4 separate regions of the Homo sapiens genome follow, and regions 2, 3 and 4 are each linked to region 1. The links come from fine-mapping of genetic effects on gene expression. A gene starts in region 1. Each other region holds a variant in brackets. All regions are shown on one strand. Distances are between the middles of the regions.

Region 1 (5,757 bases):
ACCATGGCATGTTTATTATTGATGGGAATGAGCCAGTAGAAAGAGGTTAAAAATACAAGAGCAAGAGAAGGGAATCCTGGATTTATAGAAAGCTTCCTTAGAAGGAAGAAGCCGGAGAACAAGTTAAAGGGTTGGCTTCAAATAGAAGCGAACTGCCTCAACTGAAATAAGCAAGAGTGAGGATGACTGAAAATATACCTTAGTTTGTAGATTCAGAGGTTTGAAGAATTGCCAAAATATGGGACAATGTCATCTGCCTAGAGCAAAGGAGTATATTGGAAGTTCTGAGGTTTGAAGAGAATGGAGTTTTTAAGTAGTAGTTTGGGGAAAGCATGCTGAATAGAGAAGGGCAGTAACTGGGCATGCTTCATTAAGAACCTGTATTCTGTCATGTGGGGCAGATTCTAAATATTTTCAGCTCTCTTACTGCAGGCAAGATAAAGGCAAAGGAGTAGGTATTAGAAGAGAGAGACAAACTTCTAGAGGGAACTAAATTTTTGAAGAGGATTGTCTTCCAACTGGGAAGAGAGGGAAAGCTTTTTGAGGGGAGTAGATCTGAGCTGGGCAAGAGAACACACTTGCTAGAGAAAGAAAATGGCCAGAGAGAGAAAAGGGGAGAAAAAAGTCTGGGGGAGATGGAGATAAAAGCAGAGTAGTGGGGGATTTCTGGCCTAGGTGCAGGAATGTCCTTTTATCTTCCAAAGTAAATGTGGTCACAGTAATATTAACAGTTTGTCATCTGATGTTGTGAAATTGTTTCCATATATTATTTAGACTCTCAGACCTGACAATCTATGGAGGAATTCCCAGGCATCTTTAGCTGCTACAGAGATGCATGAATGAAGGACAAGTATATTATCCTCCACACATTAGAAGAGAGGCTCCAGGGAGCAACAGGAGGCAAAAGTTCTTCTTTTCTTTTTTTTTTTTTTTTTTTTTGAGATAGTCTTGCTCTATCACCCAGGATGGAGTGCAGTGGCATGATCTTGGCTCACTACAACCTCCACCTCCCAGGCTCAAGTGATTCTCATGCCTCAGCCTCCCGAGTAGCTAGGGTTAAAGGCACATGCCACCACACCTAGCTAATTTTTTTTATTTTTAGTAAAGACTGGGTTTCACCATGTTGGCCAGGCTGGTCTTGAACTCCTGACCTCTAGTCATCTGCCTGTCTTGGCCTCCCAAAGTGCTGGGATTACAGGTGTGAGCCACACTGTGCCCGGCCAACATTTATCATTTGTGTTGAGACTATCCCAACCTTTCTCCTCTATTTTGAAATACAAAATAAATTATTGATTACTATAGTCACCCTACTGTGCTGTGGAACGCTACAACTTATTCCTTCTGTCTAACCATATTTTCGCTCCTTTTAACTTCTCTTCATCTCCTTCTCCCTCCTTATCCTTCCCAGCCTCTGGTAACCACAATTTTACTCTCTATCTCCATGGAGTCAACTTTTTTTTAGCTCCCACATATGAGCACCAAACTTCAATGTAAGACCCAAAACTATGCAGCTATTCCAAGAAAACGATTTGAGAAAATGCTTGAAAATGTTGGTCTGGGCAATGATTTTTTTTTTTTTTTTAATTAAGACTTTCTGAAGAAAAGGGCATACTTTTCACTGAAAAAGTTTGAGTTTTTTAAATGAGCAGATACTCATGCATTACTAGTGCAGCCAAAAATTATCAAAAGTAGGGAAGAATGCAAAATAGCGTGTGCCTCTTAACTAAAGAACTGTTAAGATACAAAACTTGGCTCTTTGCTGCCTTTCCCGCACTGCCAAGAGGGAAACATGAATTAGTTACATTGCCGTGGTGCTCACTGGGAGTTCGCTGTATGGACCAGATGGGTACTGCTCCGAATTTCCATTCAAGTCTGACATTCTTTTGTCAGCGTTTGTGTAACCGGTTTTCCTTGCATTCAGAGGAAAGACAGCATGGAAGTATGGATGGGAAGGTTGAGACGATTGGATACTGTATGGTAACCTCGATCGCAGCTCTCCTATGAGACTTGCTTCTTGGATTCTGAGTCACTTAAGCTTGCCCCTTCTCTTTCCTGACCCTCTTCCGTTTCCCCTTAGATTGGAGATTCTCCTCAGATTCTAAGTCTCTGAAATTATTAGTGTTGGCAGCCCCTGGGCCCATGGAGGGGTCTCAAGTCTTCAGTTCTCAAAGATCACCTTTTAAGCTTCATTCGGAACATGACACAGCCACACGAGTCCTAGCCCTGAATCTCACGAAGACCTCAGTACACCTGGAAAAGGCAGCACACCCAGTTACGACACTACTAGAGACGTCACACGCCTCAGCACCCATCCGCTCCCAGCCCAGAACGAGCGCACGCGCAGAACGAGAGAGCGGCCACCCAGGGATCGGCGCTATCTGCACAGCGGTTACAGTCTCGGAAAGGCCTGGCTTCTTCGTGGCTTTGTGGAGATCCCTTACAGCGGCCATTTGATTAGCACCCGAAGAGATTCAAAGGAAGCAGTTGTTCCGTCCCCAACATATTTCCGTTTCAAACCACCCACTTCCGGTTTTTCAGCCGGTTCCGGTCCCGCCCTTCACTTCCGGTCGCTTTCGGTCTCTCAGCGGCCGGTTTCTGCGTCCGCTGCCGCAGGTTCCACCGCGCTCCAGGTGAGGGGTTGCGGGGCACCCTGGCGCGCTGCCCTTGGAGACGCTGTTGGGGCTCGGGGACAGTGGCTTTGCGGCCCGCGCGGCGTGGCTTGCACTGCGGCGGGCTGGGGATAGTGTCTGTCCTAGTCTGACGCCCAGGCCCCTAGCCCCGGCCCGCTTAGTCGCGGGGGCCGCTGTCCTCCCATCCAGCAGTCTAGCCTATTTGGAGGGCTTTCTGTTTCCCAGTGGGTTTTGCGTCCCCAAACTTCATTCCTCCGTCTTCTCAGGCTTGTCCATCCCTCCCCTCAACCTCCTTGTTGAAGGCATCCCGGCCTTTTTGGTTCTGGAGCCTCCACCTGCCTCCTAATGCTCCCCTAAGTCAGTTAGCACAGCCCCCGACCCTGCACCACCTCGCAGTTGTTGCTGGTGTGCGGTTCTCGCCGGAGTTCTTAGTGCTTCACGGTTATCTTTTGCTGGGATTGTTGAAAGTTAACCTCCCGTTAATTCCCAAAGTGTTACTTTTACTGCTATACTTTAAAATTTCTTCATTTGCCACTTTTTAGGTTTGTGGTCCCGGGCAAGTTTAATTTCTTTTCAGGATTCTCATTTGTATAATGAGGACAACAGCTGTTGGTTCAGGATTGTGAAGCTTCAATGAGATAATTGTTTAGCATGTTTTTATTCCATCATGAACACCATTTGTATTGTGTTTTACAGTTTACAAAGTGCTGTCACAGGTGTTACTTCATACCTTAACACTACTCCTGTCCAGTGAATATTAGTAGCCTCATCTTGTTGAGAAGACTGAGGCCAAGAGGTGGATTGACTAGGCAAAGTCAACACAGTATGTTAGGTAGAACTCCAACCTAAACAGCTATTCTTGACCCTAGGTTGACCATATGGAAGTGTATTCTTTGCTTGCTTGTTTGGGTTTGCCAACTTCACTCCTCCCCACACCCCAAATCATTTTTCAGCTTATAAATCTGATGGGATCTGAAATGATACAAAATACTAAGAAAGAAGGTTAAATGTGAAAGCAAAATAGCTCATGCATTTATATCACACTGCTTCATTGGTGTGAACGGTCTTAATGATGAAATAAGGTTCAGTAACTTTTAAACAAATCTTAAAGACATATGCATTTACAATTTTTATGGTGTTTGTTTCGCTTGGCCCTTTAAGGCATTTGCCAACTTGGAATTTCCACTTGTGGGATAGGTGCTTCGTAACGTTTTTATGCTGCTTTATTAACCATATAGAGCCCATGCCCTCTGGCACATTTTTTTTAAGGCTGAAAACATTGAAGAGCCTGTAGTACTGACTCTCAAATTTGAGCATTCATCAGAGGTGAGGAGGACTGACCTTGTTAAAACACAGATTCCTAGGTCCCTTCTCTCCACCCCAATTACATTTCTACCAAATTACCAAGTGAGGTCAATGCTGTTCGTTAGCCCAGGGACCATGCTTTGAAAACCACTAGTCTAGAAGAGCAATCACTTGTCCAGGGTCACCTGGAACTCAGATGATTTCACTCCAAACTCTGCACTACTACGCATCACAATATATGCGATATTAGTGCTGGTTGCCTTTCTAGCTCTCGTAGGATTCCCTTTTATTCTTATGTCTTACAGAAAATATTTAAACTGTATTTCAGTTTAACTCAAAAGGTCCACTTTTAATTGAAGAATATAACATTTGTTATAGTTCTGTCTAAAATGGAATACGTTACCCTAAATTAAGACACTTGCTTTACATTTTCAGTAGAACACATTGTAAACATAGGAGTAAATATACATTTATAGTTCATATTTGTATTCATATATGAGTAAATATAAATATGAATTTATGGCTCTCTCTTCTAATTGGCCTTTTAGTAGGAGACACTGTTTTTAAATTATTTTTGGAAGTGGAGATTAAAAATTTAACCTCTTTCTTGCAGTTGGTCCTAATAGTTGCATGAAGAGTGCAATCAAATGTTTCATCAAATAAGTGAAAGCATTGGAAATACCAATACCTTGAGATTAGAAAATCCAGTTCTCTGGACTGTGGGAGGAATGAGTTTAATGAAAAATAGAAAGCTTTATGCAGGAAGAGACATATGTTTGGTTATTTACATGAGTGGCAGCCACTATATAATCTTTGTGTGCTTAGATCTGTACCCATGGGTTTTGTATTTTCTGATTGATATGGTTTGGCTGTGTCCCTACCAAAATCTCAACTTGAATTGTATCTCCCAGAATTCCCACTTATTGTGGGAGGGACCCAGTGGGAGGTAATTGAATCATGGGGGCCGATTTTTCCCGTGCTATTCTTGTGAATAAGTGAATAAGTCTCATGAGATCTGATGGATTTATCAGGGGTTTCCGCTTTTCTGTCTTCCTCATTCTCTCTTGCCACTGCCATGTAAGAAGTGCTTTTTACCTTCTGCCATGATTCTGAGGCCTCCCTAGCCATTGTGGAACTGTAAGTAGCTGGGATTACAGGCGCCCACCACCACCTCTGGCTAATTTTTTTTTGTATTTTTAGTAGAGATGGGGTTTCACCACATTGGCCAGGCTGGTCTTGAACTCCTGACCTAAGGTGATTCACCTGCCTCAGCCTCCCAAAGTTCTGGGATTACAGGCATGAGCCACTGTGGCCAGCCTTGGGTATGTCTTAGCAGCATGAAAACAGACTAATACGGTAAATTGGTACTAGTAGAGTGGGGCATTGCTGAAAAGATACCCGAAAACGTGGAAGCAACTTTGGAACTGGGTAACAGGCAGAGGTTGGAACAGTTTGGAGGGCTCAGAAGAAGACAGGAAAATGTGGGAAAGTTTGGAACTTCCTAGAGACTTGTTGAATGGCTTTGCCCAAAATTCTGATAGCTATATGAACCATAAGGTCCAGGCTGAGGTGGTCTCAGATGGAAATGAGGAACTTGTTGGGAACTGGAGTAAAAGTGACTCTTGTTATGTATTAGCAAAGGTACTGGCAACATTTTGCCCCTGCCCTAGAGATTTGTGGAACTTTGAACTTCAGAAAGATGATTTAGGGTATCTGGCAGAAGAAATTTCTAAGCAGCAAAGCACTCAAGAGGTGATTTGGGTACTGTTAAAGGCACTCAGTTTTATAAGGGAAGCAGAGCATAGAAGTTTGGAAAATTAGC
Region 2 (5,757 bases), 41 kb before region 1:
CTGGGTTCAAGCGATTCTGCCTCAGCCTCCTGAGTAGCTGGAACTACAGTCATGCGCCACCACTCCCAGCTAATTTTTGTATTTTTAGTAGAGATGGGGTTTCACCATGTTGGCCAGGCTGGTCTTGAACTCCTGACCTCAGGTGATCCACCCACCTCGGCCTCCCAAAGTGTTGGGATTACAGGCGTGGGCCACCGCGCCAGGCCCCTGTGAGTTTTCTTTGATGTCTGATATGGTTTGGCTGTGTCCCCATCCAAATCTCATCTTGAATTGTGGCTCCCATAATTCCCACCTGGGAGGTAATTGAATCATGGGGGCAGGTTTTTCCCATGCTGTTCTCGTGATAGTGAATAAGTCTCACGAGATCTGATGGTTTTATAAAGGGCAGTTCCCCTGTACACCCACTCTTGCCTGCTGCGATGTAGGACACGCCTTTGCTCCTTCTTCACCTTCCGCCATGATTGTGAGGCTCCCCCAGCCATGTGGAACTGTGAGTCCATTAAACCTGTTTTTCTTTATAAATTACCCAGTCTCAGGTATGTCTTTACTAGCAGCATGAGAACAGACTAATACAATGTCTCCACATTGTTTCACAAAATAAGAACGTTTGCTTTGGGTCATAGACTTCTGAGTAGAGTGTGGCTAATTAATTACTCTTTCTAAATGGGAAATGGAGGTGGCGGCTAGGAGAGTGCAGACTAGAGTTACTCTAACTGGGTTCAAAGCCTGGCTCTGCCTCTTACCAGCTGTGTGACCTTGGCCGAGGTACTCAACTTTTCTTTGCCTAATTTCCTATTTAATAACACCTACCTCACAGGATTTTGTGGTCAGATGTGTCATTATACATATAAAGTACTTAGAACAATGTCTTGCACAAGGAAAGCAGCATTGCTATGGTCTGAACGTTTATGTTCCCCCAAAATTCATATGTTAAAATCTATTATTCACTGCAATAGTATTAAGAGATGGGGTTTCTGGGAGGTGATTAGGTCATGAGGGCTCTGTTCTCATAAATGGAATTAGAGGCTTGAGGGAGCTTGTTCGCCCCTTCTGCCATGTGAGGACACGTAGAAAGCACTATCACCAGGAACAGGCTGTCACCAGACAACCGTTGCTGCCTTGATCTTAGACTTGCCAACATCTAGAACTGTGAGCAATATATTTATATTGTTTATAAATTACCTTATCTAAGATATGTTGTTATAGCAGCCCAAGCCAGGATAAGCACTATCATAATTGTTATTATTATTATTTTTGGCTTATCATGCTTATACCTTCACTATTCAAAGATACTAAAGATACTATCAGTCAGTATTTACTGAGCACATATTCATAGCATCTGTTAGATGCTAGGTGCCATATAAGTGAATTAGAACACACAATTCCTGCAGGTGCTAAGTGTGATGTAAATGAACCAGACCATAATTTCTGCCTTCAAGCCTGTTATGACCCAGTTAGATAGATGGACCTACGTATGCTGCCATGTTATAAAGCTGCATGATACATATTTTATCCCTTAATTGATTATAAACTCTTTCTGGCATGAGCCACAGTTTCTTTCTTTTTGAATCCCTCGCTCCTTCTCTCTTCCACTTAGGAGATTGTCTATAGTATGTCTTCAGCTAATTTGTCATCAACTTCCAAAAAACTTATTTTATTTGTTTCCTTTTTTTTTTCAAGACAGTCTCGCTTTGTCACCTAGGCTGGAGTTCAGGCACAATCTCGGCTTACTGCAACCTCCACCTCCCAGGCTCAAACAATTCTCCTGTCTCAGCCTCCTGAGTAGCTAGGATTACAGGTACCCGCCACCGTGCTCAGCTAATTTCTATATTTTTAGTAGAGATGGGGTTTCACCATGTTGGCCAGGCTGGTCTCAAACTCCTGACCTCAGGTGATCCACCTGCCTACTAGGCCTCTCAAACTGGTGGGATTACAGGTGTGAGGCACTGCACCTGGCTGCAAAAACCTTATTTTCAATAAACTTTCCTGCTGACCACTCCTATTAAGGTTCTGGTGCTTTCTTCATAGTGTCTTTACTCAAGTGTTCTCAGCATCAAGCTTCCAATCCACTGACCCTACCAGCTCTTTACATCTTCTCCTTATGTCCTGCCATCTCTCTTCACCCACCATAAGTTCTATGGTGTGTCATTTAAATGTGCCACTTACAAGGATTCTTGGCTCTCTGTCTGCTCTGTACCTGCACCTGAGTGGCTGATATTGCTGGATAAATCACACAACCAATCACAAATCTCAAATCTGAGCCTTCAGGCCCACTCCACAATCCCACTGCATTGTCCTGGTACATTTGTTTCCCACTCCCAGAGGGGCATGCTCTGCTGTCTTCTCAAACCTTCCACACCACCCATCCTCTCTCTTCCACTATTTTCAGCTGAGTGAGTAGCTGAGAAAATCAAAGTGATCCATCAAATCCCTTGTCTATCCACCATGAAATGACCAGAACGTAGCGGTATTTTAGGCCTTCTTTCTTGTACCGTGGTAGAGGTTCCCTGGCTTCAACAAAAGATCAGATTCTCCACTAGCAATCTGAATCTCAGCCTCTTGTTTTTTTCCAGCATTTAGAATCTGAAATAAATCCCTCTTTCTCATACCATCAAGTCCCCTCTCTACTGGGTCATTTCCACTAGCATAGAAACATGATTAGAATGGCGGTTGTTTAAAAAATGTGTCCAAACACGGTGGCTTGCACCTGCAATCCCAACACTTTGGGAGACCAAGGCAGGAAGACCGTGTGAGGCCAACAGTTTGAGACTGGTCTGGGCAACCTTGTAAGGTCCCATCTCTAAAAATTTTTTTAAAATTAGCTAAGCATGGTGGCACACACCTTTAGTGCCAGCTATTGAGAAGGCTGAGGCAGGAGGACTGATTGAGCCCAGGAGTTCAAGGCTGCAGTGAGCTATGATTGTGCCACTACATTCCTGCCTGGGTGACAGAGTGAGACCCTGTCTCTTAAAAAAAAAAAAAAAAATCCCCCCCTTGAATTTTGTGCCTCACAACCTTCACCTCCACTTCACTACAAAAAATATCCTGAAAAGTTGTCTATCGCAACTGCCTCAACTTCCTACCTTTTATTCTCCCCTTAATCCATTCCAATCAGAATTTAACCCCAAATATTTCACTGAGAGTTTTCTAGCAAGATCATGAAAGACTTCCTCACCAAATCCAGTGGTCCCTTGTCAGTACTGATCTTATTCTACCTGTCACCAGCCATTTCAAAGAGTTGACCATCTCCCCACCTCTTTTTGTTTGTTGGTTTGTTTTGTTTGAGATGAAGTTTTGCTCTTGTGGCCCAGGCTGTAGTGTAGTGGCACAATCTTGGCTCACTGCAACCTCCACCTCCCGGGTTCAAGCGATTCTCATGCCTCAGCCTCC[C/T]GAGTAGCTAGGATTACAGGCATGCACCACCACGCCTGGCTAATTTTTGTATTTTCAGTAGAGATGGGGTTTCACCATGTTGACCAGGCTGGTCTCAAACTCCTGACCTCACGTGATCCACCTGCCTCAGCCTCCCAAAGTGCTGGGATTACAGGTATAAACCACCACACCTAGCCAATTATCTCCCCCTTTTAAAAACATTTTCTCCTCCTGATTTTTGCATTAGATGCCTAAGGCTGCTGTAACCAATGACTACAAATTGAATGGCTTAAGATAAAAGAAATTTATTCCCTTACAGTTTTGGAGGCTAGAAGTTCAAAATCAAGGTGTCAGCATGGCCTTGTTCCCTCTGAAGTCTTTAGGAAAGAATCTTTCTTGACTATTCCTAGCTTCTGGTCACTCCTGCCAATCCTTGGTGTTCCTTGGCTTGTAGCTGCCTCACTCCAATCTCTGCCTCTGTCATCACATGGCCTTTTTGTAAGGACACCAGTCATTGGATTCAGGACCCACTGTAATCAGTATGACCTCATTTGAACTTATTAGATCTAACTAATCAGGTCTGTAAAGACCCTATTTTCAAATAGGGTTACATTCTGAAATTCCAGATGGGCATGAATTCTGGGGAGAATACTGTTTAACCTGCCAGTTTCGGTGACTGCATGCCTTCCCAGTTTTTCTTCTATCTCATTAGCTGTTCTTTCTCACTCTCATTTGAGGGCTACTTTGTCTTAGCTGTAAATGTTGGAGTGACCCAAGGCTTGGCTCAGGGCCCTTTCGCCTTCTGTAAACACACTGTCTCCTGAGGGGATATCGTCCACTCCCATGGTTTTAAAATTCCACTAATGACTCCCAAATTTGTGTTCCAGCCCTCAGCTGTACCCTTAGCTGTGTCCAAATCCCAGCCTCCTATTGATGATAGTAGTTAACACTTATTGGACACTCCCTATGTACCAGACCCTGTCTTAAGGTCTTTATATGTATTAACTCATTTAATCCTCACAAGAAATTTACAGGGTGAGTACTGTTTTTATCCCCAATTCATAGATGAAGCAACTGAGGCACAAAGAGGTTAAGTAAATTGTTCAAGCCTACATAGGTGGGAGCCAGGTTGAGTCCAGAGTCTGCTCTTTTCACCACCACCTGTTCTGCCTTTCCTCTGGGATCCAGGCTTATATATCCCAACACATACTCAACATCTGCACCCAGATGTCTAATAGGCATGTTGGAGGTGAATTAAATAGAACATTGGACTCCTGCCCGTTACCTCCACCTTAATCTTTCCTTTCCTGGTCCCACATCTCAGCATATGGCACCACCAACCCAGATCTAGAAGTCAAGTTCAAATTTGATTCTCCTGTTTCCCCATTTACCCTAGTCTTCATTCCCGTGCCCAGCCAGTCCATCAGCAAGCCCTACTGGCTTGACCTCAAGCATAGGTCTCTAATCTGTCCACTTCTCTCCATTTTCACTACCATCCTAGTTCATGCTGAGCTATCATTTCATGTTACTGCAATTAAATTCTAGTCTTTTTGCTTTCACTTTTTTGGTCTATCCCTAACCCAGTGGCTAGATACATTTCTGAAAGATAATCAGACCATGACATGGCCCAGTTTCAGAGCCTTCCAGGTGTCCCTTATGTTCAAAATGCATACTCCTGTTCCTTGCCCACAGGGCCCAGCCTGACCTGGCACCTTTGCCTCTCTGCTCTCCTCTCTTACCACACTCCTCCTTAGTTCTCCAGCTTGAGTCACAGGCTTCATTTATGCTTTTCCAGGAACCCCAACCCATGCTTGCATCAGGCCCTCTGCACCTGTTCACTCTCCTGACAAAAATGGTAGCAGAAATGCTCCATCCTCACATCTTCCCTTCATTCAGACCTTGGCTCAGACATCACATGCTCAGACAGGACTTTTCTGAATCACTGCTTTTTTTTTTTTTTTTTTTTTCGAGACAAGGTCTCACTCTGTCACCCAGACTGGAGTGCAGTGGCACCATCTCGGCTCACTGCAACCTCTGCCTCCTGGGTTCAAGGATTCTCCTGCCTCAGCCTACCAAGTATCTGGGATTACAGGTGTGTCCCACCATTCCTGGCTAATTTTTGTATTTTTAGAAAAGAGGGTTTCACCATGTTGTCCAGGCTGGTCTTGAACTCCTGACCTCAGGTGATCCGCCCAACTCAGCCTCCCAAAGTGCTGGGATTACAGGCGTGAGCCACGGCACCCAGCCTAGGACTTTCCTGAATCACTATCTAATGTTGTTCTGTTGTCCCCTGATCACTTTCTCTCACACACTGTCCCATGTTTTTTGTTTGTTTTTCCTTTGAGACTGGGTCTCGCTCTGTCACCCAGCCTGGAGTGCAATGCCACA
Region 3 (5,757 bases), 43 kb after region 1:
GGGGAGAGGCCCCAGGCTCCTTTAAACAATTAGCTGTCACGTAAACTAATAGAGCAAGAACTCACTCATCACCAAGAGGATGGCTCAAGCCATTCATGAGGGTTCCACTCCCATGACCCAAACAGCTCTCATCAGGTCCCACTTCCAACATTGGGGATCAAATTTCAACATGAGATTTGGAGGGACAAATATGCAAACCATATCAGGTGTTGATGGTGAAGGGGTGCTGTGTTTCTTTTTGGGGTATTGAAAATATTCCAGAATTTATTGTGGTGATGGGAGCACAACTCTGTAAGTGTATAAAACCTGTTGAATTAGACACCTTAAAAGAGTCACTTGTAGAGTATGTGAACTATACCTCATTACAGCTGTTAGAAAAATGTATACCTTGGTGGTCAAATTGTAGTAGCTAGTGGTGGCTTCAGTTTGCGGAGTTAGAAGAGTAAAGTCAAATATGAGGGTTTTTATATTTTGGGTAACTTTTTCATTACCTAAAAGTGAAATTTTCTCTTTTTGTGGATCTTAGGTGGAATGTAATGTAAGGGAGAAAACCTTTCTCTCTACCCTCTTAAGGTTTGATCATTGAGTCTGGGAAGTAAATAGACAGTAGATAGATTAACAGGAAAAAACAATTTTAATTATGTGCATAGGCATGGGAATCTCACAAAAGATGAGACTCAAAGAAGGGCTAGATGATTAAAGTTTATATAGCATCCTGAGCTACAGAAAGGAATTGGGGCTTGGAGCTTAATTTGGGGGTGGGGCATGACACAAATTATGGGAGGGAAAGGAGAGGAAATGCATGGTGAATAAAAGTTGTCTTGTTATGCAGATAAACAGTCTCCAGAGTAATAAAGGTTGTCTTGGAGCACCCCTCAGAACAGGTGATAGTTTGTGATAATGTCTGGGCTTGGCAATTACCTTCAGTCTGTTCTCCTCCTGTGATACAGTTAATTTTTCCTAATTAATGAGATTCCTGGGGAGGAAACTCATGGCAATTGAGTGCCTTTTTGGAAGATCTATCTTTAGGCAGACGAGGCAAGTTCAGAGACCACCCTTCCCTGTGCTTTTGAAACAGGGGTGAGAGACAGCAGGGCAGAAGTTCAGGGAGGCTTTTTGGTTCTCCCTTAGTTCAAAGCACTCTGCATGAAAGCCCCAAACTTTGGGGTATCATTTTCAGAGCCCCAACAGTAAACTTACAAATTTGCCTATTTGTGTAGACTTGCCTCTTGAGGGTCAGTAGTCAGTATTTTTCTTACTCAGTGAAATTTCAAAATTTACAGAATTGAAATCACTCGGACTTAAATTTTAAAATGTACTTGTGTAAAGAAGATACATATAGTAAAATCCTTTGAAAGCAGACATTGAATCTTTCTGAAAAATGATAGGACATTTGCAGTTTTTATGTGATGATCTAGTTAAATCCATTTGATTTCTTCCCCCTGTTCTGCCTTCTCTTACTGTCCATTCCTCTTCTGGTAGAAAGAGTTGACTGCCTGTGTACAGGTGGCAGAGTTGTTTTCTGTTCATCAGAGTCAGTAGTAGTAAAATTCAGTTGCTGGATTAGCCAAGTGTGCTCTGAATTCTGACCTCTTCAATACAATAACATTTTGCATGACTAAGTCTGTACAGTTTGTTCCAAAACATTACCCTGCAAAGCAGTCTGCAAAGCAGCTTGATCCATGCTTGGACAGCCATCCCCAGCTTGGTCCTCCAGGTTTGTGGACAAGGATCTGGGACACTGAGGGCTTGTAGAGAGTAGATATGGATTGGATTAAGCACAAATGGCAACCCTAGACTACACAGGAAAGTCGTAGTCGGCCACACCTTGGGCTTCCTATGACAGCAGCATATCAGTGCTAACGAGCCAGGGCTTGCAAGCCAAGGCACACCAATGCATTTGCAAACTCCAGAGTCACCATAAGAAAGTCATTTATTCCAACGCTTGTAGAGAGAGGCTGCTTGTCTCTAACAGTATATGTGCAGTGTTGAAAGTAAATCTTTAGATAAGTTAAATTTAACCAAATTTAATTGAGCGAAGAATGACTTGTCAATAGGGCAGCTCTCAGAACCAGCAGAAGTTGAGAGAACTCTGCTCCCCGATATGGGCTGACAGCAAATGAACAGAAAATGGAAGTGAGGTACAGAGACAGCTTGGTTGGTTACAGCTAGGTGTTTGCTTTATTTGAGCATGGTCTGATCAGTTGGTAACCTATAATTGATTGGAGGTTTGCTGCTGTGTTTTACTGCTGAGGCTCAGCTATTAGCTACAAAAATATATTAAATTAGCTTTCAGTCAGTTCATACCAAGTTAGGTTGCATGCAGTTCATTACATAGGGACTCAAGGTATGGAGTCAGCCTCAGATCAAGTTTAGATTAATTAAACAGTGGAGAGAGGGCAGATGTCAGTTTCAGAATCATGGCTGATTGGAAAATGTTTTCCCTTTCTGGACTTTTTGGGTAGGGAGACCTTTCCTTCTCAGATCCTCCAAAAGGCCTTCCTATCTCCACCAACAACAACTCCAAGAAATGTCTTTTTATTTTTAAATACATGCTCAGAGAATACAGAGAATCCAAAAGAAGGAATTAAAAAAAAGTAACAAACTAAGACATAGTCATTGTCACTACTTTGGTATATGTTAATGCTATCTAACAGAAGTAGAAGGTGAATGACAAATATGAGTCATATATTTAATTAAAAAATTTAATGTAGCCAGGTGCAGTGCTCTTGCCCATAATCCCAGCACTTTGGGAGGCCAAGACGGGAGGACTGCTTGAGCCTAGGAGGTCAAGACCAACCTGAGCAACATAGTGAGAA[C/A]CCCCAGCTCTACAAAACAAAAATACTGTACTCCCATTAAAAAAGGTTTAAAAAGGTGAAATTAATGTTAATAATACTTTAAACTTGATATATATTATTTTATCATACAATCAACTTAAAAATTATTATTATTATTATTATTTTTGAGACGGAGTCTTGCTGTTGTTGGCCCGGGCTAGAGTGCAATGGCATGATCTTGGCTCATGGCAACCTCTGCCTCCCGGGTTCCAGCAATTCTCCTGCCTCGGCCTCCCGAGTAGCTGAGTTTACAGGCACCTGCCACCATGCCTGGCTAATTTTTGTATTTTTTATTAGAGACAGGGTTTCACCATGTTGGCTAGGCTGGTCTCGAACTCCTGACCTCAGGTGATCCACCCACCTCGGCCTCCCAAAGTGCTGGGATTACAGCTGTGAGCCACCGTGCCCAGCAACTTAAAAATTATTAATAGGATATTTTACATTCTTTCATACTATCTTTGTTTTTTATTATTTTATTTTATTTTAGAGACAGGGTCACCCAGGTCGGAGTATACTGGTGTGATGATAGCTCACTGCAGCTCGGACCTCTCAGGCTTAAGCAATCCTCCAGCCTCGGCCTCCCAAGTAGCTAGGACAACAGATGTGCACCACCATGCTGGGCTAATTGTTTTGTTTTTTGTAGAGACAGGGTCTATATGTTGTCCGGCCTCTTTCATATTGTCTTTGAGACCCAGAGTGTATTTTGCATGTACAGCACATCCCGCCATGTTTCCAACTGAGGTGCTCAATAGCTGTGGCTGGCGCCTATTGTACTGACCAGCACAGATGGATATTGTTGTGAATCTTTACCCCAAATTTGGTTCAGATGCTATACCAAAGGAGGGCACACCCAGGCTTTCTGAGCAGCTTGCCCAGGTGTGGGTGTGGTGCAGAGAGGTAAGAGAGAGAGGCAAGGCTTAAAAGCTGTCCACAGTTACACATCAAAAAAAAGGAGTCAGACTCTATATATACATTATATTAATATTTATATCTATCTATCTATCCATCCCTATATCAGACCTCAAGGAAATATATTCAAAACTACATGTTGAAAAAATTAAGCAGAGAGAAGTAGATGGGAAGGTACTAAAAATGCAAGACTTAGCAAAAGAAGGCTGTATATATATAGCAAAAGGGGACACACAACAACCCCTCCCACTAGCAAATGCAGCCCAATCATTGCCCCTAAAACAGAACCTTGCACTTGCTTCTCCTTTCCTGAAATGCGCCTCCTGCCCCAAGGCACACAGCTTCTCCCTCACTTCTTTCTGTTCTCTGTTCAAATCTCACCACACCTACCTCTTCTGAGGGGCTTTCCTTGTTCATGCTATCTAAATTAGAGGTTCCTCTGCCCCTGTGATTCTTAATGTTACTGCAAAGCAGCTACCACTTAAAGAATTTGTAGTCTATCTCCCCTGAATAAACTGGAAGCTCAAAACGGGGGAGTTCAGGTCTGTTTTGTCTGCTGGTTTGGCCCCAGAATTTAGAAAAGAGGCCGGCACACAGTAGATTCTCAGTAAAATAGTGTTGAGTGAATGGTTGCTTAGGAGAAGGAAACAGGGAGGGTACTTGGAAAAAAGGAGCAAGAAGGCCACCATTGGTGAGAATAAGTGTTTTATAAAACACAGGTTATGGTTTTCCTTCTTTAAGAAAAGTAGTTTTGTTTTCAAGTGCCAAGAATAACATTAGGCTACTAAGGATTTCTGGACTGCTTTGGGGTTTGTTTTAATGAATAGATGGAAATTACATCTATTTAGCATTAATTTTTATGTGTAAGTGGGTACACCCGAATTGAATAAAAGCAGTTCTCTTGAATAATTAAAACATCCTCTTCACCCTGCAAAGCATTTAGCACACTCCTCTCCCAAAAATTCTATTAATGGCAACTAAAATCATAAGGTTTAAATGCAAAATAAAGAAGGCATTTTTCTTTATGGTGGCACAGAAGTGAATACCTCAAAACCGGGCAGACCCGAGAGTCAGATACCAAGGGTTCTGTGGAGTCAACATGATGGTCTCTGATAACATCAAAAGTTAGGAATGTTTTACTAAAAAGAATATAGGAAGAATAAAGAATTCTTGTTTACAGTAGAATTCAAACTAATAAACATAGAAAGAAGGATAGAAATAGAAAATCACCATTAGGCGAAATTACTGTTGCTTGCAAGCAAGTATCATCTACGTATGACAAAATCTGTTGGTAGAAGTATGATGAGAAAAAGGGTACTAACATAGTCTTAAAGGGTCTCTCCACAAGATATATTAATTCCAAAAGAAAAAAAGAGTACTACAGGGGAGAACACTGGTGGACAGACACAACCTAAACAAAGTGATCAAAGTTAATTTCACCAGTACTGAGAGACATTGATTTCATGCCCCTCCTGATGAGATTCACTGAGAAGGGCACAGTATTACTGCTGTAGGATGCTTGACAAAAATGTAGAACCCAAATTTAATCATGAAGAAACATGAGACAAATGTCACTTGAGGGACATTTTACAAAATAACTGCTCCTAGCTCTTCAAATGTGTCAAGGTAATGCGTGGTTAAGGAAGACCAAGGAACCTTCCCAGACTTGAGGTGATTATAGGGCATGAAACTAAATTCAGTGTTGTGTCTTAGATTGTATCCTGGACGAGGAAAAGCACATTGGTGGAAAAATTAGCAAAATTTGAATAAGGTCTATCTATTAGGTAGTAGTATTGATCAATGTTAATTTTACTGTTTTGGATAACTATACCAAGTTTATGTTAACATTAGAGAAACCCGGTGATAGTAATATGGGACTTCTGTGAACTATTTTGGCCATATTTTTCTAATTCTGAAATTAATTCAGAATGAAAAGTTGAAAAGAAAGTATCTTTAGTTGGCAATCTTCTGGGAATTTGAACAGGAACTGCCAAAATGGGAGTCAGGAGAC
Region 4 (5,435 bases), 52 kb after region 1:
AATTTTCTTATATCTCATTGGCCAGAACTCAGTGTTTTGGCTTTGCTGGGCAACAAAGGTGGCTGAAAAAGTGGTCGCTAAACTTACCAACATTTAGAGCTGAAGAGGGCATCGGGGAGAAAACAGTTGGGAATGAGTATTGATTGGAAAACCAGCAGGCTGTTTCCAACACCCTGCTCAAGGTCACAAGTCTGTTATGTAACCATAGTTGGGACTGGAGTCTGCTCCTCTGATTCCCAGTCCTAAGATCTTTGGCTTAGACATTTAGTACATTTTGTAGTGGCTAGATTTACAATAAAAAGGACAGTCCTGGAGACTATCTTTAAAGAAGAAAAACTCTGCATTGCATGCACTGAAATTAATCGAATGCTAAGAGGTCATGTCGCAAAAGCACTGGGCATGGTGGGAGCCAGAACATCTCACCTCTGCCCCAGGCTGGCCAGAAATTTGGGGAAAGGTCCCAGTTCTCAGTGCTTATGAAATGTGATTAGTTATTTATTTTTTAAAAATCTGGTTAGTGTTGTTCATTAAATGTCCGTTAAGTACTTTGGTAACTGCAGATGAAAGACCCTGTAGGGGGACAAACACTTGTTATTAACAACCATATGCTGTCAAGTGTGGGCTTATAACACGGGACCATATGCTCCAAAGGTTGGCAAAGAATGACAGAAGCCACCCACCATTCCTCCAGGCCAGGAGCAGAGTGGCATAGGGCTCCAGGGGACACTGAAAATCAGGAATGTAAACAAACACCCCTATTATAATTACCCTGCCATTGCAAGGAAGCCTGAATGTGCACACTTGGATTTTTGGGATAGCAGGAAATTGGACTGCATTCCCTCTGATCCCACCATCTCCTCCTTCCATGGGAAGCACCAAGGGGAATTTGCAGGCCCTGCCCATTCTTTAGCCCAAAGTTGGCACCCTCTCTTCTCTGATGAGTCTTCCTGGATGGTGCTGGGTTACACAGATCCTTCTTTTTCATTCTCACCCCAGGCTACCATATATCCTGAACATTTTAGCGTGTAATGATAGTGAAGTTAACTTTTCATCCTGCCTTATAAGCAGTGTTAGGAGTGGGCACTGTTTGGGAGACACAATGCAAGGCTTTTTGAAACTTCCCAACCCTGAGGGCTAGCACATGTCCATATATACGGCAAACTCTCAATAAATACTAGAGCTGGACCTAAGAGCTGAGATGTCCATGGCTGTACCAGGTTAGAGTTTTATTTCATGATTCTTGGGATACCAGTAGAGTCGATTCCAGGATAGAGGGTGGAATAAGTGAGAGCTTCCACCCCTAAAAAAGGCACAATGCAGTTCAGTGCCCTTGCAAAGGATCCTTCCTTGTCAGATTACAGGGACATCCCCTGAGCTCAGGAAGACACTGACTTTGGAAATACTATAAGGGGAAAGAGCAACTCTGCAAAATTTGGAATGGGATCACTTCAAGAAAGGGCAATGCTTAAATGATAGGGGAAAAAATGCACCCCTGGTAGACTTGCAAGCAGAGTACTCAAATCAGCTGAGAATGCCCAAAATATGATTACAAAGAAGAGTTTTTATTAGTTCAGCCTCAGAATGCAAAAATAAATAAATAAATAAACAAACAGGAAACAAATGTAATCACTTTACAGAGCGCACATACATTACTTAAAAGTAGCACCTTCATGGAGCCATATTTTCTGGTCATAATTGTGTATCAGGTTCATTCATGCTAATGAGAAAGGGATTCCAGATTTTCTTTGCATCTGTCTGCTTCTCACAGGGCTGTTAAGAAGCCACCTGCCATTCTGACAATTTCATGTCCTTAGCCATAACTACTTGTCCTCTCTCTTGAATCTTAAGATCTTTTTGCCTTCCAGACACTTACGGTGTTTCTGTGTCATCCTCCTGTGTCTTTTAGAGAGGTGGGGGTGAGGACTGCCATGGAAGCTAAAGCTGAATTTTAATTTCAATCATTTTTTTTTTTGAGACAGGGTCTCATTCTGTCACCTAGGCTGGTATGCAGTGGCACAATCACGGCTCACCATAGCCTTGACCTCCTGGGCTCAAGAGATCCTCCTGCCTCATCCTCCTGAACAGCTGGGACCACAAGCATGAGCCACCACGCCTGGCTAATTTTAAATTTTTTTTGTAGAGACGGGGTCTTGTTATGTTTCCCAGGCTGGTCAATCATTTTTTTCTAGCCCTTTTAAAATTCAGGCATCCAAAGATTAAACTTGCTTAGAAGTGTAAGTGGCCCTAAATTGCTTTATCAACACCATCTCCAGGAAGTCTTCACAGACATGGGAACTAGCATCTTGTTCTCCTGGATCTTCTCAACAGGTTTGCATTGTCAGGTTTCCATGTAAGTATCTCTTGCGTTCCCATCCATCACAAGTGTATGATGGCACTGGTATCAGAACACTGCATTCTTCCTGATTGTCATAAAACTGATGTACTTGCAGCCTTGCTTGAAAAGTTGTCAGTACAAATAAAATTAAATTCACATTTTGCATAATAGGGACTGATCCTGATGGATCAGGTCATAAGAGTATGAAACATTCCATACATCCTGGCAGACAAACGTTAAATAACAGTAATATACTAATAAATACATAAATTACTTAAATATTTAAATAGCATGAAGGCCCATGGCAACTTGAGAGCTGGAAAATCTATACATAAATTAGCTGATTGTTTCAATGAGCATTTAGCATCTAACTATACAAATACAGCAAAGATATCATTGTGATCCTAAAAAAACGTTTTAAAGCAAATCAGATAGAAATTATCTTTTTGGGTCTATTCCGTTGTGTCTTTAAACATTTTGCTTAATATCTTCCACTTTTCCTCCAAATTTTCATCCTGGATCAGAACCTGGAAGAGAATGCCAAAAGTTGATGTGGGGTGACATTGTAACAGCAATGTCTCTTCTTATTTCTCACAACATATGATCCTGGGCAACTGGGTTTCAGGGATTTCATGCCAGAAGGCCCAGGCCTTCCTTATGTGGCCTGGAATTTGGCTGGCACCATGCTTGCCAGAGGCTTTCTTGAGGGTTTTCTTAAAATAATATCTGATTGTGTTACTTCCTTGCTGAAAACCCTTCAGTGGGTTTCAGGGCCCGGGGCCCCCAGAACAAGATTCTGAGTCCTGCAAGCTTGCAAGTCCTCCATGCTCTGCCTCCTGGCTACCTCTCTCTTTTCTTTGCCTTTCTCTTTAGGAGGCCAGAACCCCGGTCTGTTTTCTTTCCTGCAATATCCCTGTGGCCAGCACAGTGTCCTACATAACAAAGGCACCAAATAAATATCTGTTAGTGAATAAATGTATGTTTCTGATTCTGGCAACTGGGTGCTGGCCACTCCATCCCCCTTTCCTCTCCAACACAGCCCCCAATCATATCCCTGCATCCAGGTGCACTGAGAGTGCAGGCCTGGGCTGGCCTTTGAGGGCCTGCTCACCTAACTGCAGGGCACAGATGCCCATTCGCTCCAAGATGAGCTATAGTAGCGGTCCTGGGCCCGCACGCTAATGCTGGCATTTTTGCGGCAGATGACCGTGGCTGAGGTCTTGTCCGTGAAGACTCTATCTTTCTGCAAAAGAGAAGGAAAGCT[G/A]TGAAGACCCCTTGGCAACATAGTCACAGGGTAAGCTGAGCCTGTTTCTGCAATGCATACTCTCCCAAAACAAGCCCATCTTGGTCTTAGGGCACTGTGCTTGCAATTCACAGGGGTGTGCATAGAACTTGCACCACCTACTGGCAGACACTCCACATGTAGGTGCAGCTTTTGTACTTTGTAAGCCCTTGAGGGAGAAATCGTTTGGCCCAGCTTTCATCTTTCTAGCACAATTGCCTTGCCTCAAGACCCCATGGCCACTCACCCAGTCCTGAGCTGATGGTGAGAGAGAGACAGATTTGCTCTAGCCATCCCTGAGATATTGAGAAATACCATATCCTGATCATTTCATCAGAAAACTTGCCTTCAAATTCTGGCACTGCTACTTAATAGCTGTGTAACTTCAGGAAAATGTCTTAGGTTCTCTGTGTCTGTTTCCTCACTTATAAATAGGGATAACAATAATGCCTACTTCATAGAATTATAGTTCAAGGTAAAAATCACGTCAAACTCTTAGCAAGTCTTTAGCACATAGGAAGCACTCAATATCACCTATTAGTCATACAGATCTTAAATAGGGAAAGTACTTGCCAAGATGTAAAATAATATTTAGGTAAATATCTATTCCAGGATAGCCTCCCTACCTAATTATTTTCCCAGAGAGTAACTAGCTCACTGAATTTCTACCACATGCTAAATGCTATGCTGAATTAGGGCTTTGTCCAGTGATTTTAAAAGTGGGGTGAAAGGAGTCTGGGGCGGTACAAAAGGGCCTCTGGAACCTTGCAACAGGCAAAGGAATTCTGCTGTAAGGTGAGGAAGCTGGGAAGCCAATATCTTAGCCTCTATAAGTGTAGACATTCTGTTTAGTAAAATAATTTTATAATATCTGGAACAGCCAGGAGCTATCCATTTTGGGGGCGATATCTCTTGCCTGTTCTATCATTCATTACATGCACTCAGTTGAAACAACAATTTTAGGCTTCTGGAGCCCAGGTCTCCTCTATCAGGACTAATTCTGAGTGCCAAGATCAATGACCAACATCAGAGGTAGTGGAGTGGTTAGGTGCATGGCCTTTCTGTCTGGCAGATTGAGTTTATGTCTTGGTTATGTCATTTCCTAGCTGGGTGACCTTGGTAAAGTCACTTAACCTCTCTGAGTCTTCAATCACTTGTGAAATGATGATAATACTACTGGCTACCAACCATCCTTTTCTTGGGGTTGGGCTACTGTCCAATGAGCACGTAGTGAGGGCAGTGCTGCTAACACCTACACAAAATTCCTGCATCAGCTACAGCTTTACTTTACCTTGCCACAGTTTCTGGAAAAAAGGAAAGCCTCTTTTCCACAAAAAAGGGGGTAAAAAAACAAGAATAACATCAGCTACCTTTGTTGCGTTAATTTTGTAGATTAAGTGAAATAAACATGGAAAACCCTTGGCACAGCTCTAGACACATAGAAAAGTGCTAAGAAAAGTAATTATGCATCACATAATAACATTTCAGTCAAAGAAGGATCACATATATGACCAGTGGTCCTATATTGTTATAATATTGTATTTTTGCTATATCTTTTCTGTTTAGATATACAAACCATTGTGTTGTAATTGCCTACAGTATTCAGTACAGGAACATGCTGTACAGGTTTGCAGCCTAGGAGCAATAGGCTATACCATAAAGCCTAGAAGCGTAGTAGGCTATACCATCTAGGTTTGTGTGGGTACACCATATATGTTTGCACAATGATATAGCTGCCTAAAGATGAATTTCTCAGAATGTATCCCTGTTGTTAAGTGATACATGGATGTCATTGTTATTATCATCATTCATCTTCTC

Direction of the effects. Alleles are on the strand shown, and positions count from the first base shown. SD is a standard deviation of normalised expression in the study named. Not every link is listed here.
For the expression in lung of the gene that starts at base 2,560 in region 1, A is the high allele of the variant in region 4 and G is the other (small effect, 0.19 SD a copy in GTEx).

Evidence for each region. PIP is the estimated chance that this variant, and not a neighbour inherited with it, causes the effect.
Region 2: its variant is the best candidate, but not a certain one, in a credible set for the expression of UBLCP1 in whole blood (INTERVAL, PIP 0.67).
Region 3: its variant is the best candidate, but not a certain one, in a credible set for the expression of UBLCP1 in whole blood (TOPMed, PIP 0.88).
Region 4: its variant is the best candidate, but not a certain one, in a credible set for the expression of UBLCP1 in lung (GTEx, PIP 0.69).

The regions. Positions count from the first base shown.
Region 1 is chr5:159,260,731-159,266,487 of GRCh38, forward strand. UBLCP1 (ubiquitin like domain containing CTD phosphatase 1) reads left to right here and starts at 2,560. Exons shown (of 11, transcript NM_145049.5): 1 at 2,560-2,630. RefSeq lists enhancers at 1,785-2,292, 2,127-2,196, 2,227-2,536, 2,293-2,800.
Region 2 is chr5:159,219,474-159,225,230 of GRCh38, forward strand. No RefSeq gene overlaps it. Among named protein-coding and RNA genes, the nearest start is that of LINC01932, 5.4 kb to the right of the region's middle. The variant C/T (reference allele first, on the strand shown) is at 3,391.
Region 3 is chr5:159,303,546-159,309,302 of GRCh38, forward strand. No RefSeq gene overlaps it. Among named protein-coding and RNA genes, the nearest start is that of IL12B, 24 kb to the right of the region's middle. The variant C/A (reference allele first, on the strand shown) is at 2,820.
Region 4 is chr5:159,313,239-159,318,673 of GRCh38, forward strand. IL12B (interleukin 12B) reads right to left here. Exons shown (of 8, transcript NM_002187.3): 7 at 3,447-3,578; 8 at 1,542-2,862. The coding sequence ends at 3,447. LOC105377683 (a long non-coding RNA gene) reads left to right here. Exons shown (of 3, transcript XR_941138.3): 3 at 1,980-2,238. It also overlaps the pseudogene RNU4ATAC2P. Among named protein-coding and RNA genes, the nearest start is that of IL12B, 15 kb to the right of the region's middle. The variant G/A (reference allele first, on the strand shown) is at 3,600.